Regions from separate parts of the Homo sapiens genome. Here all the other regions are linked to region 1. The links come from fine-mapping of genetic effects on gene expression. A gene starts in region 1. Each other region holds a variant in brackets. All regions are shown on one strand. Distances are from middle to middle.

What was found. PIP is the estimated chance that this variant, and not a neighbour inherited with it, causes the effect. A credible set is the group of variants that fine-mapping cannot tell apart.
Region 2: its variant is the best candidate, but not a certain one, in a credible set for the expression of MIER1 in whole blood (INTERVAL, PIP 0.65).
Region 3: its variant is the best candidate, but not a certain one, in a credible set for the expression of MIER1 in fibroblasts (GTEx, PIP 0.72).

What each region holds. Positions count from the first base shown.
Region 1 is chr1:66,920,180-66,928,367 of GRCh38, forward strand. It overlaps MIER1 (MIER1 transcriptional regulator), which reads left to right and starts at 4,811. Exons shown (of 14, transcript NM_001077700.3): 1 at 4,811-4,916; 2 at 5,963-6,063. The coding sequence starts at 4,850. DNAI4 (dynein axonemal intermediate chain 4) reads right to left here and starts at 4,677. Exons shown (of 17, transcript NM_024763.5): 1 at 4,483-4,677. The coding sequence starts at 4,652. RefSeq lists enhancers at 4,380-4,539, 4,830-5,109 and a silencer at 4,680-4,799.
Region 2 is chr1:66,973,865-66,982,052 of GRCh38, forward strand. It overlaps MIER1 (MIER1 transcriptional regulator), which reads left to right. Exons shown (of 14, transcript NM_001077700.3): 12 at 2,731-2,858; 13 at 7,915-8,054. It also overlaps a transcript of SLC35D1 not described here. Among named protein-coding and RNA genes, the nearest start is that of MIER1, 53 kb to the left of the region's middle. The variant G/T (reference allele first, on the strand shown) is at 4,943.
Region 3 is chr1:67,023,383-67,031,570 of GRCh38, forward strand. All of the region lies in intron 8 of SLC35D1 (solute carrier family 35 member D1), which reads right to left. Among named protein-coding and RNA genes, the nearest start is that of SLC35D1, 27 kb to the right of the region's middle. The variant G/A (reference allele first, on the strand shown) is at 3,372.

The sequences.
Region 1 (8,188 bases):
AGTGGCTTGACTTCAGAGGGACAGCTTGATGGTGTAGCTTTGAAGAGGAATCTGGCTGGGGACGGCTGAACTTCAGGGGAAGATTACCTTCCCGTTCTGTCCCCTTTTCAGCTCCTCTTCCCACTGAGAACCACTTTCACACAATAAAATCCCCTGCATTTACCAGCTTCAACTCTCATGCGACCTCATTCCTCCTGGACACTGGACAAGAACTCAGGTGCCACGAGTGTGGGTGCAAAAGGCTGTCATGCTGACCCTCCACTGAGCTGTTAACACTTACGCTGTCTGTAGATGGCAAAGCTAAAAGGGCACTATAACACCTCCTCTGGGGTTTTGGGCATCGTGGATACCCTCCCCTAGATACTGTTGGGGAGTGAGTATGTAGTTTGCTCTTGAAGGTGCCCAAAAGCACTCACCCTGGCTCCTGCACCCACTCACCTGTGCTCCACCTCCCTCAAGGGGTGGAGCAGCGAGTGAGTGGAGTTCACCCCTGCCAGCGCCTGCACACTCCAGTTCCCACCTGTGAAGGAGTCACTATCCTGCTTCACCACCATATCTACAGGGCTCCTGTATAATAATTAGATTACAATGGAAAGAACTGCAAGGCTGAATCTATTTAAGGAGTCCCTAGGGAAACTGTAAAAGACAGAAACAAGGACAGTAGAGGAAACTGATGCCTTACACATTTACAACTAAACAGTAAACACAGCCTAATTCCTAGCCACACAAACATAAAACACACTATCAGCCTATTTAATCTCAGTTCATATTATCTATACAATATGTTCAGCTTTCAACAAAAAATTGTAAGGCATATCAAAAGGTACAAAAACAGTGTGAAGAGACAAAGCAAGTATCAGAACCACACTTGGATATGACAGATATTTTGTAACTGTAAGACTATGAATTTAAAATAATTGTGATTAATATGCTAAGGGTTCTAATGGAAAAAATGGATAACATTCAAGAACAGGTGAGTAATGTAAGCAGAGATAAAAACATTAAATAAGAATCAAAAGGAAACAAGAACATGTAAGGAATATAAAGGCACTGGACAGAGAAATAGGATGAAGAGGTGAACAATCAGCAGTTATTTTTATTGCAATGGGAGACTTGTCCAGTATTGTAAAGCTAAAGGCAAGAATCTAACACAGGAAAAGAGAAAGTGGAAAACTGACAAATATTTGCTTCATGAGATCCTTTCCAAGGTCAGGATTAAGTCCTAAAAGAAGGAAGATGAGAAATAACAAATTAGGCCAAACCAAAAGGTTGTAAACTTGTCTGTGAAACTTCGTTTTAATTAGGTAACATGGCTACTGCAAAAAGTGAAGGTTATACTACTTCCCGTCTCCCACCCCATTCTTTCCTTAATAGATGTTATGAAATTGTCAACATTTAAGAAACTCCCAAAGGAATTTTTCTTAGACATCATACTATGAGAGTTGGACAGTTTTTGTATTTTTCAATTTAATAAACTCAATTTAATTTTACATTAAAATTTCTATACCTTAAGGTGAAAACAAAAACCATACAAGATAAGCAGTAACCAATGTTACTGAAGTAAACACTCATTCATTCAGCAAATATTTATTCAGCACCTTCTTCAATCTAGGCAATGGATACAGTAGTGAACAAAACAAAAATCTCTGCCTTTTTGGAGTACTATCCTTAGGTGAAGATGGATGAATAAGCAGGTACACAATAAACTTGTAGAAATTTTTTTTTTTTTTTTTTTGAGGTGGAATCTCACTCTGTCGACCAGGCTGGAGTACAATGGCAGTGATCACGGATCACTACAACATCACCTTCCCGGTCTCAAGTAATCTTCCCACCTCAGCCTCCAAAGTAGCTAGGACTACAGGCACATGCCACCACGCCTGGCTCAATGTTTTGTAGAAATGGGGGTTTGCCATGTTGCCCAGGCTGGTTGTGGACTCCCAAGCTCAAGTAATTTGCCCACTGGTTGTGAACTCCCAAGCTCAAGCAATTTGCCCACTTCAGCCTCATAAAGTGGTGGAATTACAGGCATGAGCCACTGTGCCTGGCAGGAATAAATTTTATGGAAAAATTCAAGCAAAGGTGAGGGACTGAAGAGCTCCAAAGGTGAAGTATTATTACTTTATATGGGGTGGTAAAGGACTCTTTGACACAGTTACCTAAAGGAGGTGAGTCATGAGGTTATCTGGGGGCACAATATTCCAAAAAACTGCATATGCACAGGCTCCAAAGGGGGAATATAGTGTGTCTGATGTGTTGTGGGACAACGTGGGATGTAATTAGGCAAGAGGAAGAGTCTATAGTGAGATCCTGTGGGGCCCTGTAAAGAGTTTTACTGAGTGAAATGGAAAAAACTTGAGAAATGTTTTGAGCAGAACCACATTGATTACTACCTGGAGGGTGTTGGCAAGGAGACTATTTAGGTGGGTATCACAATGTAACACAGTGATTTACATGGGAGTGGTAGTCTGGATTTATTTGGCAGGTAGAAATGGTAAAATTTGCTTATAGAGTGAGGTATAAGATAGAAGTCAAGGGTAATCCCAAGGTTTTTCCCCTGAGTAAGTGAAAGAGTGGAATTTGCCATTTACTAAAATGAGAAAGATTGCAGTTAATTAGAAAAGACAGAAAATATTATATATTTGGTTTGAGATGTTTATTAACTTATAAGTGCAGGTGTTTTTTCTTAAAATCTGTTTTCTTGGGAGAGGTCTTAGCCAGAGATTAACATTTGTGAATCATCATTATAGGTGATATTAAAGACATCAGAGTGAAGAGGTTTATGGACTAACCCAGCAATACCAATACAGTCCTGGATCATCAACAATGAATCACATATACAATGGTGATCTGGTAGCAGAGCTGAAAAATTCCTATTGTCTAACAACGTTGTAGTTGTCACAACATTCAAGCACAAGACATTACCTTTTCTATGTTTACATACACAAATACTTAGCATTGTGTTACAATTGCCTACAGTATTCAGTACAGTAACATGCTATGCAGGTTGGTAGCCTAGAAGCAACAAATGCATTTTCATCATTATGCAAACACCATTTAGTGTACTTACACAAACCTAGATGTATAGCCTACTATAGCTTAGGTGTACAGTCTACTATACAATTGTAGCCTAGGTGTATAGTAGCCCATACATCTACGTTTGTGTAAGTACACTAGAAGATATTTGCAAAATGCTGAAATTGGCTAACAAGGTATTTCTCAGAAGGTATCACCATCGATGCATGACTGTATTTAGTTATGGTAGTGAGGAACAGATACCAGCAAAGGATCTGGGAAAGGTGAAACCATGAACCAAGACAAGAACTAGGAAGAGTGGTTTCTCAGAACCCAAATAAAGCTTTTCAAAGATCGAGAAGCGATAAACCCGACCGACACTGCTTCATTCAAAAAGAATGAAACTGTGGATCAGCCATTGTATTTGGTTGCATGGCTATTGCTGGCTTTCATAGAAGCTGTTTTGATGGAGTGGTAGGATGGACAAAAGCGTGAGTACCATATTCAAGAGAGAATGCAAGGTTCTCTCCCAAGAACTCTCAACAAGTTCCGCTGAAGAAAGATTAGCTGAGGTGGAGGAGATTGGAGAGGGGAAGAGAAAACAAATTACTTAGGGAATTTTGGGGGAACTTAGTGGGCAGCATTACGGGCAGCGCTAAGGAACCATTTAAAGTAAGACAAGTCCACACAGCTGTGTGCTTTTCTACAGTCTTGTTCAACTGCTGCATAACAACAGAATGTTGGAAGCAGGAATTAGTTTTAAAGTAAGATGGTATTGACGAGACGACAATAAAATACCTCTACTACAGAGCACAGCAATGTTCGGCCTGGTGGCTCACAGAAGCTGAGGCTCTTGAACGTCTGGGCACAGCATGAAAGCATCAAGCTTGAGAGACTGCAGGCCTTAACAAACTAGAAGTGCTAGAACGATGGTTCTAAACCAGGTCTTTTCTCACACAGCAAGCACAGCAATAGAGATTTATTTTATCTTATTTTTTAGACAGAGTCTCGCTCTGTTGCTCAGGCTCGAGTGCAACGGCACGATCTCGGCTTACTGCAACCTCCGCCTTCCGGGTTCAAGGGATTCTCCTGCCTCAGCCTCCCAAGTAGCTGGGATTACAGGCATGTGCCACCACGTCCGGCTAACTTTTTGTATTTTTAGTACAGACGGGGTTTCACCATGTTGGCCAGCCTGGACGCTAACTTCTGACCTCAGGTGATCCACCCCACTCGGCCTCCCAAAGTGCCGGGATTACAGGTGTGAGCCACCGCGCCCAGCCCAGTAGAGATTCTTTTAAAGACTGCGGTAGGTCGATAAAGGAGACATTGTGGCCTAGGAGCTTCAAGGTCTACAGACTGAACCCAGTTAGGGTAGGGCCCCTTTCCAAATCCAGAAATGGTATCTATTAATAGAAGGGCTCCCTCCGGGTCCCAGGGGGATGGACTACGGTTTTTAGCGCCGGAACTTACAACCCGAAGTTCTGCTGCTTGTGACTGCCTGCCGGAGAGACTGGCATGGTGGCGACCAGCTGGGGAGTGGTGCACCACCCCTTTTTTTGGCCGCCTCTGAAGTCCCTGTACCCCCAAGCTCCTCCGTTAGCGGCTCGGGCCGAGGCTCCGGAATGTTTGCCGGGCGTCATGGCGACGGTGGAGCCCTGGCTCAACAAGCGGCCGCGCGGTTGGCTGGCGGCACGAGGCCGAGGAGGAGGGCGGAGGCGGAGGGGAGGGCAGAGGGTTGGTGGAGCTGGAGGAAGCTCCGGACGACGACTGGAAGAAGGAGGCGGGCGGCCCGGGCCTCAGGCCCCTCCCAGGCTCTGAGTCTCCCGGCTGCAGGCGGATGGATGGGGCTTCTTCAGGCGGTGGCGGCAGCAGCGAAGGTGGCGGCGGCAGCAGCGGCAGCGGCTGTAAGTGCAGCCTCCACAAGCCATCTCTCCCCTTCTATTCCAGTTTGGGATGAGGGGCTCCTGAGGTGTCCTCAGTCCCCTTTCTCTCCTTCCCCTCCCCCACGGCAGTGTACCGCCCGGAAGACCCTTAACTTCCGGGGAGGGGCTGCCGCAGAACGCGCCTGGCTTGCTCTCCGCCGGCTGCCAAAGGCGCATGCGCAGCTTCCTCCCTCTGGCCATCGACTGCCTCCCAGCGCCGCCTTTTTGCCTTCGCGGTGGTGGCGCCGCGCTGGGAATCCGCTGCGGAGTGAGTTCGCCTCGCCCCGTTCGCTTCGGTCCCTGATCCCAGTCGGGGTGGGGCTAAGCTGACCACCCTGCTGTGGCTCCGCCTCTTTCTCCTGTATTTCCCTCACTTGTGTCCCATCCCCGGGAGGCTCTCGCTTGCACTGCAGCCTTTATGGTGAGCAGCGCCCTGGGCCAACTTGCCCTTTTCGGATGGAGTCAGGGAGGGAGGAGAGACTCGAATAGGGTATTACTGTAAGGAAACGAGGTCCTCCTAGCGCGTGGGAGGATCCCTTGGGACAGATGCCCGCCGCTCTTTACTCTTGTTCTTTCAGCTTGTAGTGGCTAGGTCCCTGGCCTGGAGCCTATCTGTGGTCCCTGCATGCTGTGTAACCTTGAGCGAGTCACTATCCCTCTCTGGGCTTCAGTTTTCCCTATTTAAAGCTTCCTCCAACGCTAGAATTCTGCATTTCTGCAGAAGAACTTATGTAATTACAAGATTGACTTGGCTATTGAGGCCGCTTCACCAAGATGACCCGGAGTTGACTGAACCTTCTTCACTTATGGGTGGAATGAGGCGACCTATTTATTGGGTCGCTTTTATTCCTTTATCATTAGTTACAAATTGCATGACTTAAGGCTCATTAAATGTTTTTCTAAAATTGTCATGGGATCCTTGTCCTGATTCCCGACCATCTTTTTAAAAATGCGAAACAGGGTGGATGGTGAGCTTGTATCATCGTTTCTGTCTCCTTGCTACTGAGGCTCTCTTTCCTTTGATCCAGATGGTGTGGTCGCTCGATTCTCCCAGTGCCTGGCTGAGTTTCGGACGTGGTTAAGAACCAACTGGTTGAGGTTCAATGCAGACAAGACGGATGTGATGCTGGTAGGCAGGGGTACACTTGGAGATTAAGGGAGGGAAAATCCAAACTCCCTCAAGTAATATAAGATTATATTACTCTTCTTATATGTTCCAGTGTTTGAGAACTGATGGGCCAAAAATTTCCAGAATTTGGGTGAGATAAAAATAACATGTCATCAATGTAAAAACCATAATCATAGTTTGTAATATTCTGATAAAATGGGGCCACTGGATAAAACTGTAAAAATTATGAAAAGAAAATCCAAAACTGTTATTTGAAGAACCAAAAGCCTATATAAGTGTTTTAGAGTGGCATTAATAACAAAAAATGAAACTAACGAAAGATGATGCTGATTGTCACTATAGATGTGGGGCTTCCAAATGTAATAGGCTAAGTTTTTTAGATGTAGGTATTTTCAACCAAATTAGTAATTATCCATAAAATTTTACCACCACATCATAAAGACATGGTGTAGGCTGTTGCTTTTAAATAAAAATTTCAGGAAATAGTTTATAAACTAATCTCAAAAGAGACTCATGGACGCTGAAAATTGTTAGATATAGAATTTTTTAGTTTTGGATGTGTTGTATTAATCTATTTCAGTCAGCTAACCCCAGAGTCTAAATTGTTATAAGTACAGTATTTTCTTGGTGCATTTTGAGAGGTACCTTTTTGGATTGCATAACAGATAGGTTTATATAGTATATATATATATGTTACTTGTATTTGAATCAGGTGTTGGTACTGAATAAAAGGTTATATTTCTTAGGTATATGTAAATTGCCAAAGAAGTTTGTTCATTGGTTCGTTTAAGGTACTGGTTGAAGTAAGATTGTGCTCCTAAATGCTTTTGTTAAAAGCATAATAATAACTGAGGGGTTTGTGTGTGCGTGCGCCTTATAGCCTCTATAGAATTGTTCAATAACTTTTGAATGGAAGATTCAGTAAATTGCTTACAAATGATTTATCAATATAATAGCAGTTTTGAGTAGCTTAATGTCATAAAAATTAATGTTACTTTGCCTGAAAATAAGGAGGCTTTTAGGTGGGGAATAGGAGCTGAAGAGGCATTTATTCAGGCTTTGTATAGTGGTTTTTTGTTTTGGGACATTAATCACAAACCTCACATAAAATTGGAATTCAGCACACTTTTTTAGTTTAAAAATTTTATACACAATTCCAACAGAACTACTGTTTTGGATATCACATTAATAAATAACAAAGTGTAATAATTTTAAGCAGACACAATTAATGGTGCATTTTCTTATGCCTTTAGCTCTCTCATGTCCTATTTTCAACTCTTCTAGTATGAATAGGCTTTAAAAATAAATTTTTTTTTGTTAACCCAAGTATAAATATTAACTGTTTGCATTTGGATACAAAGAAGATATCTGTTGAATTAATCCAAAGTGCTGAAGAACTAAGGGTAATGGATGGAAACAACAAGGAGGTAGATTCTGGCATAATAAAAGAAAGAATGTTTTAAACATTTGAACTTTTTTTGAAAAGAGCAGCCTTTTTATGAGATATAGTGAGTCACTGGAGGGGTTTAAACATAGGCAGAAAGCCTGGTAGTAGAAGCATGATGAGAGATTACTATCTTGACAGGGTAGAGAATTGACTAAAAGATCTCTAAGGTCCCATCCAACACTAAAATTCTATAACTAGTGAATAGTTAATTTTTATATATTTAATACTGAAGAGGGTAAGTAAGCGTTTTGAGAAAGACTTTTCATTCCGTAAGGTGGCTCCTGAAAATTTTACAGTTAGGTGTATCACTAAAATAAAATAATAGTGGAAGGATACTGAATTCAGTGGTAATGTGTTACCTATGAATTGCAGTATTAGAGCTGTTTCTTTTTTATAATATCTGAACCTAAAAAACCCACTGAATCCACATTTATAAAAAGGGGAAGGGGAAAAATGTAGAGAGTTTTTTTCCCTCAATAATAATAATACCATTTAAAACTAGTAATATTGATACACAATATTAATAAACTTAAAGAGTTATTTAACAGTAAGATAGATACCCATTCAGAAATGTTTCAGACTTCCATTTTCCTGACAAGTTTAGGATTCATTCAGTAGGTTAATAGACTATGATCCCCTGCTCTTTATCATAGTTGGGATTTCTGTTGGTAGTTTAAC
Region 2 (8,188 bases), 54 kb after region 1:
TTGTGTCGTAGCTTGTCCAGGACCTTGTTGAAAGTACCTGGGCTTATGTCTGAGGCTCTGAATAGTCTTCTGCCACAGCTCTCTTTTTATACATTTGGATGTGATTGGATTGTATCCAGTTGATTTTTTTGACACATATTTAATATTTTTTGTTATTAATAAAATATTTACAAATCCTGTGGGTTCATTTCTTAAATTTTGTCGTGCATTAACTAGTTTATTCTTATTTTTATTATTTTTTTTTTAAGTGGGAACTGGGCAGTGAAGAGCCCCACTCCCAATTAGTTCATTCTTAATTATTTTGTTGAATGTTGGCAGTTTACCGCAGATAACACTAATAGAGAAATGTTTAGTTTTAGCATTTAGGATAACTTAGAAGACAATGTAATTAGTTTCAAAAATGTATACCCCTAATGTTGTGTTCATATCATCTGATAACCTCAAATATAGTTAACATTCAAGAAAAGGAGTGCATTATGTGACTGGCCGTGTATGTTTTTGATTAAAAAAGAAAAAAGTTCGTTGTTTCATGGTTGAAAGGGACAACATTTTTGGATGAGGTTTTTTTTTTGTTGTTGTTGTTGTTGTTTTTTAACACTTCTGCTTGAATTAAAACACTCTTAACCAAACCATGCTGAATTACCTAAGGAAGGGACCCCTGGAATGATAGCTTATGTAACAAGCAGCAGCAACAACCCTGACCAATATGATTTTTTTAAAGGAGTTAAGAAATTATAGGTGACTTGAAACTTAGAGCCAAGTAACATAAGTATTAAAAGTATAACCTTGATTTCTCATAAATATTTGGGACAGTGGCATTTAAATGTTACAAGGTAGAAGTCAGCTGACCTCTACATAATACACTAAATTACTCTAGTGCACAAAAAGAGGACAGTAATTCTTTAAAAGGGAGACGAGTACTCTAGTGAGAATATCGAGTTTGTTTTTATGTCTGGAATTAAAGTTCAGATCTTAATCATAAGTTCTATTTTGAGGGCTTTTGTTGAAGATTTTTCATAATCTTAACTTTGCATGCCCCAAAATGACTTTATCTTTTTGCTTTCAGTAAAGTACAGTTGACTTAGTTCGAATCTATCTAGAAATAAGATCCTAGAGGAGACAAAAAACAGCTTGAGAGGATGATTTTTTTTAAAGTCCTGATTGCTGTCAGTCTCAGAGCAATATGGATCAGAGCTGTACAGTGCAAACGGGAAGAAAGCAAAATATATGTTGGGTAAGGGAGGGTATCATCAACATTTGTCCTTTAGGTGCAATCAGTGCTACAGAATATTTACTTCAAGAGCAGAAATTTATGGGATAAAGAAGTATATTGCATCCAGAACACATACAGACACTGGATTTCCTTTTAAATGGTCAGTATTGCCGGTGCAGTGGCTCATGCCTGTTATCTCAGTACTTTGGGAGGTTGAAGCATGCAGATTGCTTGAGCCTGGGAGTTCAAGAACAGCCTAGGCAACATGGCAAAACCCCATCTCTACAAAAAATAGAAAAATTACCTGAGTTTGGTGGCATGCAATTGTGGTCCCAGTTATTGAGGGTGCTGAGGCAGGAGGATTGCTTGAGCCTGGGAGGGCAAGGCTGCAGTTAGCGGTTTGGTGCCACTGTACTCCAGCCTGGGCAACAGAGCATGACACTATCTCAAAAAAAAAAGAAAAAGAAAGGAAAAAAGTTATCAGTATTTTATTTATATACATCAGCCCTAAATCCTCAGTATTTTATATATATACATCAACCCTACCACCAGTTCTCCCGGCTAAGTAACAAAAAGGAATTCTGTCAGCATCATTTAATTCCGTAGGCATTTAACATTATGTGAGGGGAGCCATTCAGTTGCACAAATAGGTACAGCACAGTAAGCCGCAAGAGTAACTTAGTAAACAAAGCATTAGCATTATTATGATACTTTTAACTCACTGTGGCATCTTCCCAGACTTTCTAGAGAGTAAATTAACTGAGTCTGGGTTGCTGTTGGGACTAGTAAGAGAATCTTTCAAAAGGGAATTTAAAGATACGCTCCCTAGGTACCCGTACTCTGTGAGTAAAAGTATTAGCAAACTGTTTATAACATTTATTTTAACATGAATGCCACTTCCAGGCCTTTTTTTTGTGTGTGTGTGTGTGAGACTGAGTCTCATTCTGTCACCCAGGTGGGAGTGCAGTGGTGTGATCTCAGCTTAATGCAGCCTCTGCCCCCACCCCCACCCCCTGCTGGGGTTCAAGTGATTCTCCTGCCTCAGCCTCCCGAGTAGCTGGGATTACAGGCACCTGCCACCATGCCCGGCTAATTTTTGTATTTTTAGTAGAGATGGGGTTTCACCATCTTGGCCAGGCTGGTCTTGAACTCCTGACCTCGTGATCCACCCCCCTTGGCCTCCCAAAGTGCTGGGATTACAGGCGTGAGCCACCGTGCCCGGCCAACTTCCAAGCATTTTTAATACAGGAATATATTTTTCTAGTAAATTAGGATGATGGTAGCATTTTAAAAAGCACAGTGCTGTATATCTGAAGACCTGTTGCCAATATATTATTTCTCTTAATAGATGTTTAGAAAGAATAGCTTTCAACATAGCTGCTACACTGTTGTATGTTATATATAGGATTATATTTCAGTTAAGGACTAGCCAAATTTATTTTCAAACTTCAGATGTTTATCATGAAGTAACTTTGTTAAAAAGGAGATTCTTAAAAGCAAGCATTTGTTTCTTACAGGTCCGAACAAGGTCAGTTGGTGAATGTGTAGCATTCTATTACATGTGGAAAAAATCTGAACGTTATGATTTCTTTGCTCAGCAAACACGATTTGGAAAGAAGAAATATAATCTTCATCCTGGTGTAACGTGAGTTAATTTTTTCCTTAAGAGCTATATATACATTTTTGCTAAGCTTTTCTAGATTTTTCTTGAGTTAATTATTATTTTGATAATCTTGCTTTTATATACTTGATCTTAACCAGAAGGCCGAGAGTGATAAAATCTTGCTTTTATAATACACATTAAACTTTACCATCTATTATATCTTCATAAATAAGGCATTTAGACTTTTCAGTGTCTTATGAAATATTGTAAACTACAGTTCATATTATGTATGAGACAAGCATATCATTAAAGCAAGATTTAGAATGTATATTTTTAATACACTGTTGAGAAGAAATGGATCAGAACAGCTGTGAAAGCATGTTTTTCTTAAATTCAGTTCCATTCAGTATAAGCACATACAGTTTTAATCTTCTTTTTTTTTTTTTGAGATGTAGTCTCAAATCTGTTGCCCAGGCTGGAATGCAGTGGTGCAATCTCAGCTCCCTGCAGCCTCCGTCTCCCGGCTTCAAGCGATTGTCCTGCCTCAGCCTCCCGAGTAGCTGGGATTACAGGTGCCTGCCATGACGCCTGGCTAATTTTTGAATTTTTATTAGAGACGGGGTTTCACTGTGTTGACCAGGCTGGTCTTGAACTCCTGACCTCAAATGATCCACCTGCCTCAGCCTCCTAAAGTGCTGGGATTACAGGAGTGAGCCACTGTACCCAGCATACAGTTTTTTTATAGAGGAAAAAAAACATGTATATGGTGACTTTCCTTTTCCTAGCTTTCCTGAATCTTTCCTCTAACAAGTAATATTTAAGAATTAGTAATGTAACTCTAGTGTAGTCCCATTGACACAGATATGGGTTGTTGTATCCATTCTTTATGTAAAATGTCTGATATGCCTAATTTATTCCCATGTTAAGAGAATTTATTGTCTACACCTCATTCAGTCTAGCTTTGGAGTGAAACATTCCACTACCACTGGCAATTTGTTACTTAAACAGAAAAGAGTATTGAACCCCTTGTCTTTCATGAATTGCTTTAAAATGGTGATTAATTGTTATGATGGAATTAACTTTACAGTGCTATCCTTAATTATTCCCTAATGTTTACAGAATAAAAAAATAATGCAAAATAAAAAATAAAAATAAAAAAAAATTGACTTTGTCAATGTACTCCAGTAAAGATGTTCTTAAAGCTGACCAAATAATTACCTTCGAAAGATGTGCTTGGGCCAGGTGCGGTGGCTCACTCCTGTAATCCCAGCACTTTGGGAGGCTGAGGCGGGTGGATCACAAGGTCAGGAGTTTGAGACCAGCCTGACAAACATGGTGAAACCCCATATCTACTAAAAATACAAAAATTAGCTGATGTGGTGGTGCACGCCTATAGTCTCAGCTACTCGGGAGACTGAGGCAGAAGAATTGCTTGAACCCAGGAGGCGGAGGTTGCAGTGAGCCGAGATCAAACCACTGCACTCCAGCCTGGGCAACAGAGCGAAACTCCATCTCCAAAAAAAAAAAAAAAAGATGTGCTTGTATGTTTATTTGATCTTGCTCTTCAGACTCCTAAACTGCACTGTTTCTTGATCAAGTTCATTTATAGGTAGGTATCTCTGCTGGTCACTTCCTTAGAAGGTCAAATGCTCTAAAGCCCACAGTAAAACAATCTGAAAGAGAATAAATGGGTATGATTCACCCTTGGAAATCATGGGACAATGGAGTGTGTACATCATCCCCCATTATTCAAAGCTGGTGATTGCTAAAGTGGAATTTCATAAATAGCAGTATTGCAAATTTTATCTAATTGCTTAATGTTAAATTTATAGTTAATTTTTTTTCCATTGGTAGTATTCAAGCATAATAATATAGAATTAGATACAGCATCTAGTCTGCAGATATATCTTAAAATAGTCATGATTTTCAAGGTATTATATAGGGAAAAGCAATAGTAACATCTTTTATTTTTTTCAACCATTTCAGAAATAATGTTCACACGTGAGCTACATTCAGTCTGTAATCATCAGCAGTAACAACATAAGAATGGCCATGCTGGGTCAGACCCATGGTTCATCCAGTTTTCTCTTTCAGAAAGCATCACCAAAGTGTGGGCTGGCTTAGTT[G/T]GTCCTCTGTGATGTCAAGATCAACAGGTTAGGTAGGGATGTGCCACCAAATGTTCTAATTTCTCTATTGATCTCCCCATAGCTTCTGAAAACTTTTTGAAGATACTTTTATCTGTAACTTTAATGACTCTTAAGGTTAAATATTCTTTAGGTAGAGTGGCCACAGTTAAAAATAAACAATATCTTAATAGTGGTCACCTGGTATAATGGTATGACGTGAACTAATGTGTTTTTTCCCTTAGGCAGGAATACCATGGTTTTGTAGGCTTCAGTTGTAGCCCCACTGGGTTGTTTTTTTTTTATAAAGTTTATTTAACTGAAAGAATCATACTTTTTTACTGAGACTCTTCCCTTTTAGCTGTGTTATGTCTTCTGTAAGAAGCAGTGACCAAACTACATTTCTTTCCAGATGGGGATAAATTTTTCTGGTTTGCTTCCATTACCATCTCTTTCTGTTAATAGCTGCACTTTAAGTGACTTCATAAAACATTAAGCTAATGTGTTTAGAGAGAAATTTGAGTGAATTTTCTCATCCTTCTTTTTAGGTCAAAATCCATAATTCAGAGCACATTATCCTGAAAGTCATTTGTTCACCAGGATGAAACACATTTTCCCCTTTTCTGCCTACAAACAGCCTTTGAAAGATTCTGCTACACATTGTCCCTATTTACTACCTGGAAGAATTGGGAACCTTATTGGAGATTTCATTGTAGAATACTCAGCTTTCCAAATAATTTTTCCAAAAACTAAACATTAACTCAGCATAACTTTGATTACCTGAATGCTGCTTCAACTTTCTGGATGGTTTGTCTGATTCTGCCCTTTCCTGAATATTCTGGATGCTATTAATCTTTAGGAAACAATGATAATAATAATTACTATCCTTTCACAGAATTATGACTATATCCAGAAATTAAAAATAATTTTGATATCAACTCTTGTTTCCTTTGCCTTGGCTTTTTTTTTTTTTTTAAAGACGGAGTCTCAACCTGTTGCCCAGGCTGCTGGAGTACAGTGGCGCAATCTCGGCTCACTGCAACCTCCACCGCCCGGGTTGAAGTGATTCTACTGCCGCCGCCTCCCGAGTAGCTGGGATTACAGGCATGCGCCACCACACCCGGCTAATTTTGTATTTTTAGTAGAGACAGGGTTTCTCCATGTTGGTCAGGCTGGTCTCAAACTCCCAACCTCAGGTGATCCACCTGCCTCGGCCTCCCAAAGTGCTGGGATGACAGGCGTGAGCCACCACACCCGGCCTTGCTTTGGCTTTTAACTTCCTTCATATTATCCATTCCCACTATAACGTATTTATTTCCAACAATTCCTCATCATGTGTCTTCTGTTAGCCTTAGCACCTGAAGTCCCTTTGGGACTCACCACACTTATTTCTGTGTGCTTCAAATTTGTTATGTAATTTTTCTATAATTATGATGAGTAGCATAAAGCTGAAGAAGTCTTCAAGACCATCTAATTTAATTCTATATAGATTTATAGGTATTCAAGACCATCTAATTGAATTCCCTTCATTTATAGATGAGGAAAATAAGGCATAGAATGTAAATTGCATAGGTCATGGTCATATACATTTCTGAGATATGTATTAGTTTTATACCTCAGACTATTAGAAGTTTCTTGAAGTCAGGTATCACATCCCTATATTTGTTAAATCCCTATAACCTAGGAGACAGTGATGACCATATAGGTTGAGATAACTACAATTAATAGCATATTATAGACTATTAACACAGACTTTCAGAAAATTCCTCAGAGCTTCCACTGTTTCCTTCTTATTTACCCTGCTCACAAAATTCTAAGAGATTTGTCTTAATATTTCTATCATACTTATGCTGAAGGAATTTTAAGATAAATAACACAATTAGAATTTTATTGAGTTTCTTTCTGTTCTGTGCCTTGCACAACTTAGGTACCAGTGGTGCAGGTATAAACAAAGTAGACTAAAAATTCCTGACCTTGGGGAATTCTAGTGCAGTATCTAGTATCAGCAAACTTTTTCTGTAACAGGTAGAGAATAAATATTTTATGCTCTGTAGTAAGAAAGGACTTAATCACACTACTCAGTTGTGCAGTTGTTGCAGGAAAGCAGTCATAGACACTATGTAAACAAAGGTGTGTGGCTGGGTTCCAATAATACTTTATTTACAAAAAACAGATGGCCAGCCCACAGGCTATAGTTGGCTGACTTTTATTCTAGTGGTTTAGTAGCACTTTTTGGATTATGAAACATTTTTATGTACATATATAATACAATAACCATGTGTGTTAGACATATGATTTATCTACATTTTGTAGGTGATACACTAAACCTGAGAGAGACAAATCTCTATCCCAGATCTGCTCACCAATGTCACTTAACCACAGTTACGTAGTTCAGGAATGATTTAGAGAAGAAATGAGCTCACATACAATGAGAAAGTGACAGGATAAAACCAGCAGATAATCCCAGGAATTTAGTTAGCATCTTATAGCTCAGATCTGGCAGAAATATAATACCAAAAATATCCAGGAAGGTTTTAGGAGGTAATCAGTCCTTTTTGTTAGGCTCAAATTTGTCTTTTAGGTATCGCCTTTAGGAGCTTTAAAATTCAATCTATGTTTGTACAGAAATTCTTTTGTACTTTTACTAGACATCACCCCTATCACTTCAGTTAAGAGATCTTCCAGTTCTAGTTGGGCCACTCTGAGCACCTGCCTACAACTTTACAAGCTTTAAAATTTCCTATGGGTCTCTAAAATTTGTTACTTTAAAGCCGTTATGCATTTTTCCTATAAACATGTAACCAAAAGGAGCTTTTCATTTAAATATTCAGATCCTGGTATGATAGATGAAGCACTGGAATGAATGTTAAGTGAATATTAGGATATATTTGTTAAGAAAGCCTTCTGAATTTAACCTCAACTAATTTTTAATTTTCAGCTCTTTTTAATATAAAAATTGTTTTATTAATTTTAAGGGATTACATGGATCGTCTTCTAGACGAAAGTGAAAGTGCTGCATCTAGTCGAGCACCATCCCCTCCCCCAACTGCATCAAACAGTAGTAACAGCCAGTCTGAGAAAGAAGATGGCACTGTAAGCACTGCTAATCAAAATGGTAAGCAACCAGAGAAACATTTCTCTTTCTTCATAATAAGGGACACTTTCTTGCAGTGACTTGGGAAATTCCGTTTGGGTTTCTATTAAACTTCCAGAGCAGAAAGTAAAAAATGATAACACATGAGACAAACA
Region 3 (8,188 bases), 100 kb after region 1:
CATTTTAATTTGCATTTCCCTAAAGACTATCAATATTGAGTATCTTTTAATCTTTGACATTAGCATTTCTTCTTTGGTGAAGTGTCTGTCTAAATCTTTTGCCATTTTTTTTTTTTTTTTTGAGACAGAGTCTCACCCTGTCGCGCAGGCTGGAGTGTAGTGGTGTGATCTCAGCTCACTACAACCTCTGCCTCCTGGGTTCAAGCGATTCTCCTTCCTCCGCCTCCCGGGTAGCTGGGATTACAGGCACATGCCACCACACCCGGCTAATTTTTGTATTTTTAGTAGAGACAGGGTTTCACCATGTTAGCCAGGCTGGTCACGAACTCCTGACTTCAAGTGATCCGCCCGCCCTAGCTTCCCAAAGTGCTGGGATTACAGAGGTACAAAAGAGGTGCCCGGCCTCTTTTGCCAAATTTTTATTCACATTATTTGTCTTATTACTGAGCTGCACGAGTTTTTAAAAATATATTCTAGATAAAAGTCCTTAATCACACATATGCTATACACACACATACATAAAATACAAATATTTTTTCCCAGTCTGTGACTCACCTTCCATTTTCTTTTTTTTTTTTTTAAGACAGAGTCTCACTATGTCGCCCAGGCTGGAGTGCAGTGGCACGAACTCGGCTCACTGCAACCTCCGTCTCCTGGGTTCAAGTGATTCTCCTGCCTCAGCCTTCCAACTAGCTGGGATTACAGGTGCATGCCACCACACCCAGCTAATTTTTGTATTTTTTAGTAGAGATGGGGTTTCGCCATGTTGGCCAGGCTGGTCCTGAACTCCAGACCTCAAGTGATCCGCCCGCCTCAGCCTCCCAAAGTGCTGGGATTACAGTCGTGAGCCACCATGCCCAGCCTCACCTTGCATTTTCTTAATAGTGTCTTTTGAAGAGCAAAAAATGTTAATGTTGATGTAGTCTAACATCAATATTGTCTTTTATAATTCTTGCTTATAACTTTTTAATGAAACCTGGGTGTAACCAAAAGTCAAAGATCTTCTCCTATCTTTTCTTCTAGTTTTATGGTTTTAGCTTTTACAGTTAGGTCTATGAACCTTTTAACATTAGTTTGCTAGAGCTGCCATAACAAAGCACCACAAAACTGAGTAGCTTAAATGGCAGAAATTTGTTGTCTCACAGTTCTGGAGGGTAGAACTCCAAGATGAAAGTGTCTACAGGATTGGCTCCTTCTAAGAACTGAGACACAATCTTTTTCTTGCCTCTCCCCTAGCTTCTAGTGGTTTGTTGGCAATCTTTGGTATTTTTTTAGCTTGTAGAGGTATCACCCTGATGTCTAACTTCATGTTCACATGGTGTTCTCCCTGTGTGCATACCTGTGTCCTAATTTCCCACCCCGCCCCCCAACCTTTTTTTTAAGCAAGGTCTTGCTTTGTCAACCAGTCTGGAGTACAGTGGCGTGATCATGGGTCACAGCATCCTTGAACTCCGAAACTTAAATAATCCTTCCACCTCAGCCTCCTGAACAGCTAAGACTATAGGTGTGCACCACCATATCTGGCTAATATTTTTTAAGTTCTTTTGTAGAGACAGGGTCTTGCTTTGTTGCCCAGGTTGGTCTCAAACTTCTGGCCTCAAGTGATCCTTCCACCACGGCCTCCCAAAGCACTAGGATTATAGGTGTGAGCCACCCTGCTGGCCCTTGATTTCCCTTCTTAGTAAGAACACCAGTCATATTGAATTAGTGACCCACCCTACTCCCGTATGACCTGATCCTAACTAATTACACCTCAATCATCACATTTCAAAATAAGATTTATTGTGAGGTACTAAGGATTAGGACTTCAATATATGAATCTGGAAGGGGAGGGACACAATTTAACCTATAACACTTTCCTGATTAATGTTTGTATATTCCACAAGGTCACAGTCAAGGTTCACTATTTTGCATACAGATGTCAAATTGTTCTACCAACATTTGCTGAAGACATTATCTTTTCCTCATTGATCTATTTTCACACCTTTGACAAAAATGATTGCCCACATGGTATATTTCTATTTCTAGATTCTCTGTTCTGTTTCACTGGTCTGTCTACTCTTAATCCAATATCACAGTGTCTTGATTACTGAAGCTTTATAAGAAGTGTTGAAATCAAGTAGGGTAAATCCTCTAAAGCTGTTATTTTTGAAAACTGATTTGACTATACTAAGTCCTTTGCAATTCCACATAAATTTAAAAATCTGCTTGTCAATATCTACAAAAATCTTCCCATAGAGTTGGGGTGGTGTTGAATCTATAGATGAATTTGCTAAGAACTGACAAATTATATCAAACCATCTAATTAATAAACATAAAAATCACTTATTTAGGTCTTTTAAAATTTATCTCACTAGTGTTTTGTAGTTTTCAGCATACAGGTAACATATTTTGTTAAATTTATCCCCCAAGTACTTTATAATCTGAAGCTATTATAAGTGGTATTTTTTACTTAGCTTCCAAGTGTTCACTGCTGTTTTGTGGAGCTACAGTTAATTTTTGCATATTGACCTTGTACTGTACAAACTTGCTAATTAGTTCCAATCACTTTTTTCTAGATTCTTTAAGATTTTCTACATATATCATCATGTTTTTAATACACACAGTTTTGCTTCTTCCTTTCAAATCTATATTATACAGATGGAGTTCTTCAACATAACACTGAATAGAACACTATATGAGTACAGACATCCTCGCCTTGTTCTCAAATCTTAGTGAAAAAGTATTCAGTCTTTCTTTCACCATTAAATATGTCAGCAATAGATTCTTTGGTAGATGTCCTTTCTTATGCTGAGAAAGTTCCCTTCTATTCCTAGTTTATTGAGAATTTTACACTCATGAGTGGGTGTCACCTTTTGTCAAATAGGTTTTCTGCATCTATTTAGGATAGTTCTACTATATTCTTGTTAATATGGTAAACTGCACTGATCGATTTTCAAATGTTAAATTAACCTTAATTCCTGAGATAAACACAATATGGTCATGATATACTGCCCTTTTAATATATTGCTGGATTTTTTTGTACTGTACTTTCTCCCCCCTTGTAATGTTTTTGTCAGATTTTGGCAGAAGGTAATCCTAGCCATATAAAATCAACAAGGAAGTGTTCTATCTTCTATTTTCTGGAAGAATTTATGTAGAATTATTATTTCTTCCTTAAATTTTTTGTCAAATTCTCCAGTGAAGCAATCAGGGCCTGAAATTTTATTTTGAGGAAAGTTTTTAACTACAAATTCAATTTCTTTAACATAAATAGGGCTATAATAGCCCTATTATTAATTAAGGCTTATGATTAATTTCAATTAAACAGACCTATTTAATTACTGTATTAGTCTCTTCTCATGCTGCTATAAAGGAATACCTGAGACTGG[G/A]TAATTTATAAAAGAAAGAGGTTTAATTGACTCACAGCTCCGCATGGCTGGGGAGGCCTCAGGAAACTTACAATCATGGCAGAAGGCACCTCTTCACAGGGTGGCAAGAATGAGTGCCCAGCAAAGGGGGAAGACCCTTATAAAATCATCAGATCTCGTAAGAACTCACTATCACAAGAACAAGATGAGGAAACTGCCCCCCATGATTCAATTATCTCCACCTGGTCCCTCCCACGACACATGGGGAATATGGGAACTACAATTCAAGATGAGATTTGGGTGGGGACACAGCAAAACCATATCAATTACTTAACAGAGTAGAGTTATTCATACATTACCTATTTCTTCTTGAGTGAGCTTTGGTACATAGTTTGTCTTTTCCAAGAATCTATTTTGTCTCAGTTGTCAAGTTTATTGGCATAATATTGTTCATAATATTCTCTTACTATTCTTTTAAAATATACCTGCTCTGTAATGAGGTCCTTCTTTAATTTCTGATATTGATAATTTATGTAAACTCACTTTTTGGCCTGATTAATTGGCTATGAATTAGCAATTTTATTAATCTTTTTTAAAAAAAATCTTAGCTTTTAGTTTCATTGGTTTTCATTGCATTGATTTCTATTCTTATCTTACAATCTTACATTTCTTATGTTTATTTTGGATTTAATTTTCTAGTTTCCTTTTTTTATTCTTCCTTCTTAAAAGACAGGTCTCACTATATTGCCCAGGCTGGCCGTGAACTCCTGACCTCAAGTAATCTTCCTACCTCAGGCTCCCAAAGCATTGGAATTACAGGCATGAGCCACCTCATCCCAGCTACTTTCTTAAGACAGAGGCTTAGATCACTCATTTTAGATCTTTCTTCTTTTCTAAAATAAGCATTTAGGGATTTAATTTATATAATTAATTTTATGGGTTTCCCTCTATATACTGTTTTGGCTGCATTCCAGAAATTTTCCTATGTTGTAGTTTTTTTGTTTTTTGAGACAGACACAAAAACAACCAGGGTCTGTTGCCGAGGCTGGAGTGCAGAGGTGCTATCTTGGCTCACTGCAATCTCTGCCTCCTGGATTCAAGTGATTCTCGTGCTTCAGTATCCCACGTAGCTAGGATTACAGGTGTGAGCCACCATGCCTGGCTAATTTTTGTATTTTTAGTAGACACGAGGTTTTGCCATGTTGACCAGGTTGGTCTCAAACTCCTGACCTCAAGTGATCCACCTATCTCAGCCTCTCAAAATGCTGGGATTGCAGGAGTGAGCCACCACACCCAGCCACTATGTTGTGCTTTGATTTTCATTGTTCAAAATATTTTCTGATTTTCTTTGTGATTTTTCTTTGTCTATGAATTATTTAGAGGTGTGCTAATTTGCAAATATTTGGGGATTTTCCAAATATCTTTATGCCATTAATTTCTACCTTAATATTGTTCTGGTCAGGGAATATACTTTGTATGGTTTCAATTCTTTTAAACTATTAAGACTCATTTTATGGCCCAGAATATAGTTTATCTTGGTATATACCCAATGTGCACTTGAAAAGAATGTGTACGCTGCTGTTGTTGAGTGGATTGTTCTTTAATGTCAAGTAGATCAAGCTTGTTGACAGTATTATCCAAGTCTTCTATACTTTACTGACTTCCAGTTTCACTGTTTTATCAATTACTGAGTTAAAAATATTAAGATCCCAATTGTAATTGTGGGTTGGTCTATTTCTCCTTTCTGTTCTATCAGTTTTTACTTCATATATTTTGGAGCTCTCTCATCAAGAATATATACACTTAGGACCATTATATCCTTTTGAGGAATTAACCCATTTTATCATTATGAAATGTTCCTCTTTATGGTACAGTTTCCTTTACATTCTGTGTTTACTGAGCTCCTTGTGTGTGTGCCTTTAAAGTTTTCATCAAATTTGCAGAAAAAAAATTTCTACTCCCACCCTTCATAGACTTCTTGATATTGCCCCACAGGTCACTAATATTGTGTTCATTTGCTTTACAATCTTTTTTCCTCTATACGCTTCATCTTGGACAGTTTCCATTACTGTCTTTAATTCACTGATCTTTTCTCCTAATCTGCTGTTTCATTCCTTCCACTTTATTTTTCAATTCAGATATTTTTCATCCCTAAAAGTTCCAATTGAGTCTTTTGTTATAGCTTTCTTTTCTCTTCTCATCCTTTCTTAACAATCCTTCACAGCCTGTCATCCAAAGACTGAAAAATGTTGTTTGATAAATGTTTGATTTTCTAGTACCTTAATGTAGGAAGGTAAACCCTGTCCGTGTTATTCCATCATGGCTAGGAAATGAAAGACCACATTCAGTTCCTGATTTGAATTATAAACCTGTACCAAATGATGCTTCCACTAGGAAGCTTTCACAAAAACCTAAGTTGCACATTAGTATCTTTCCTGCCAAACTCAAGAGAAGACTAAATGCTACTTTTATCAGGTTCCTTACTAAGTATGTGTACATATATGGACATCTTTATGTACATGACTATCTCTCCAGACAGACATTGCAAATACCTTGATGATTTATCTCTGTATCCATGGTATTTAACAAAGTGATCAGAAAATAGTAGGTGTTTAATAACTGTTTACTGGATGAATGGAAGACATGAGAACTCATGCATACAATCTCATGCTACGCTCCTTCATACCTGTAAACACAACCTCCTCTCTGATGAAAAATCAGTAACGCACAATAAACTGGCCTACGACTCAGGAGACCAGCTTCTGCTAGCAAGACTGTAAGTTCCTTGGGAGCAGGAAATGTGTCACATGTCATTTCTGCAGAGTTCCATGCACTTAGAAGTGCTAAGCACAAATACTAGTGGCAGTAGATTAAACATCCATGATCTGTGGCCCAGCATCATTTTCTACACACAGATGAGGTGAACTTTGCTTTTGTTTTAATCCCTGACCCCCTCTGAACTTTGCTTTTTAATACACCCACACACCTGCTTGTACATGCTACTAACTGTATTTAAGTTGAATGTTAAATCTACATAATTTGTTTTTAAAAAAAGTTTTATTTCACATTTATCTGAAACTGGACCAGAATCTCAAGTATGTTTACATTTTAATTGTTCACATTTTAACTGTTTCTTACACTATCAGTTTGCCCTGTTTCCTGCGCCCCACGCCCCAAGCTTTATTAAGGTATAGTTAACAAAATATATAATTTTAACTTTTCTTCTAATAATTAAAGGTCATTTGAACTGCATGTAACTCATTAGCTTTGCACTAAGTTTTTTTTTTTTTTCTTTGAACAGACAAGGCATAACCCAGTAAGCCATCAATTAGGCAATGGAAAGGTTACGCATACCCTGCAAGAAAAGCCATTGTACCTAGAAAAGTAGGTGGACCAGGATTCAGAAGCCTGGTGTCTTGTACCACCTCACCACTGCTTCATTATGCTAGACTGAGCTTCTGTAAAGGAGAACTGCATGGGTATTAAGGCTTCTTCCAGTTGTGACAGGAGTATTAGATCAGCTTGAAAAGTAGAGAGTTTATTTTACCCAAGCTAAAACACATAAAAGAAATCTCAGCCCTAAAACCTTTCCTCCAGCTCTAAATTATCTTCCTTTCCTGGCTAAGCTATTCTTTTATCCCAAAGTCATTAAGAATACAGAATAAGTTGTTGTAAGGGACAATGATAATTCTCTGAACCTTAGTTTCTACATATGTAAAAAGAGGAATAATAAGGCCTCATCTACAGGGTTGTTATCAGAATTACAAAAAATATATATATGGATACAATCACTGACATGGAGGGAATCTGGCTCAATAAATGATGTCAGCTACTATATATAATCATTACTTTTAATTTTTTTTTTTATCAGTGACCTAATCAGTGGTTCAGTAATCAGAATTATTTGGCAAAGACCTCAAATAAACCTCTCATAAACCTAAGTTTCTTCTCTCCTCTAGCTCTAAATATCTCCTCTGCTTTCGGTGTACAATTCTGACATCTATTAAGTCCCATGTGCCAGGCCCCAGGCAGGATTTGAGGCACAATGCTAAAGATGGTTTAATCAGGCTTCCTGATAATCAAGCAGCAAATGATTAAAAAAGTGCTGCCATACATTTTTGGAGTGCCTTATGGTTTACCAAGTGCTTCTGCATGTATCATGTCATTTGATTGCCATGACAACCTGTGGGACAGAAAGGCCAGATCTTCTTATACCCAGAAGACGGGTAACTTACTTTAGGTCACACAGGTTATATACGGTAAACATGAGTCTACATATGCTAAGCCCCAAGGCTGTCTACACTGAATGTTACATTTGATTCAGAAAAATGCCCCAAATATATACTGCACAGTCTCCTTTGGGGACATAATAATGATATCTGCAGGACATTAAAATAAATCTCATGGATATGGTTCCATTCAGATAAAAATCAAAAACAGAAAAATAATTCTCATGGGACTTTTTTTTTATTTCTCTAAGTATTTGGCCTGTCTCTGGAGAAAGTCAGTCTATGGCACAAGCACGCTGTTGCATTCCTCTGCTTCGCCACAGGAATAGATCTTTGGCTGCAACAAAAGCAGCAGCAGCCATTTGAAAGTACAGCTGTAGGAAAAACAGAACCCTGGCAGTCCCTACAGTGCAAAGGAGCCCATTCTCCCTGCCATAAAGACAGCATTAAAAAAAAATAAAAACTACTGCTTATTAAGTGCCTATTATGTACCAGGCTCAGAAACATTCAGTAACTTTTCCAAAATTATCTAGCTAGTAAGTACCTGTTCAGCTCCATAACCTATAGTCTTTCCATCTGTACTGCCGCAAAAAAAAACAAAGGCAAGGC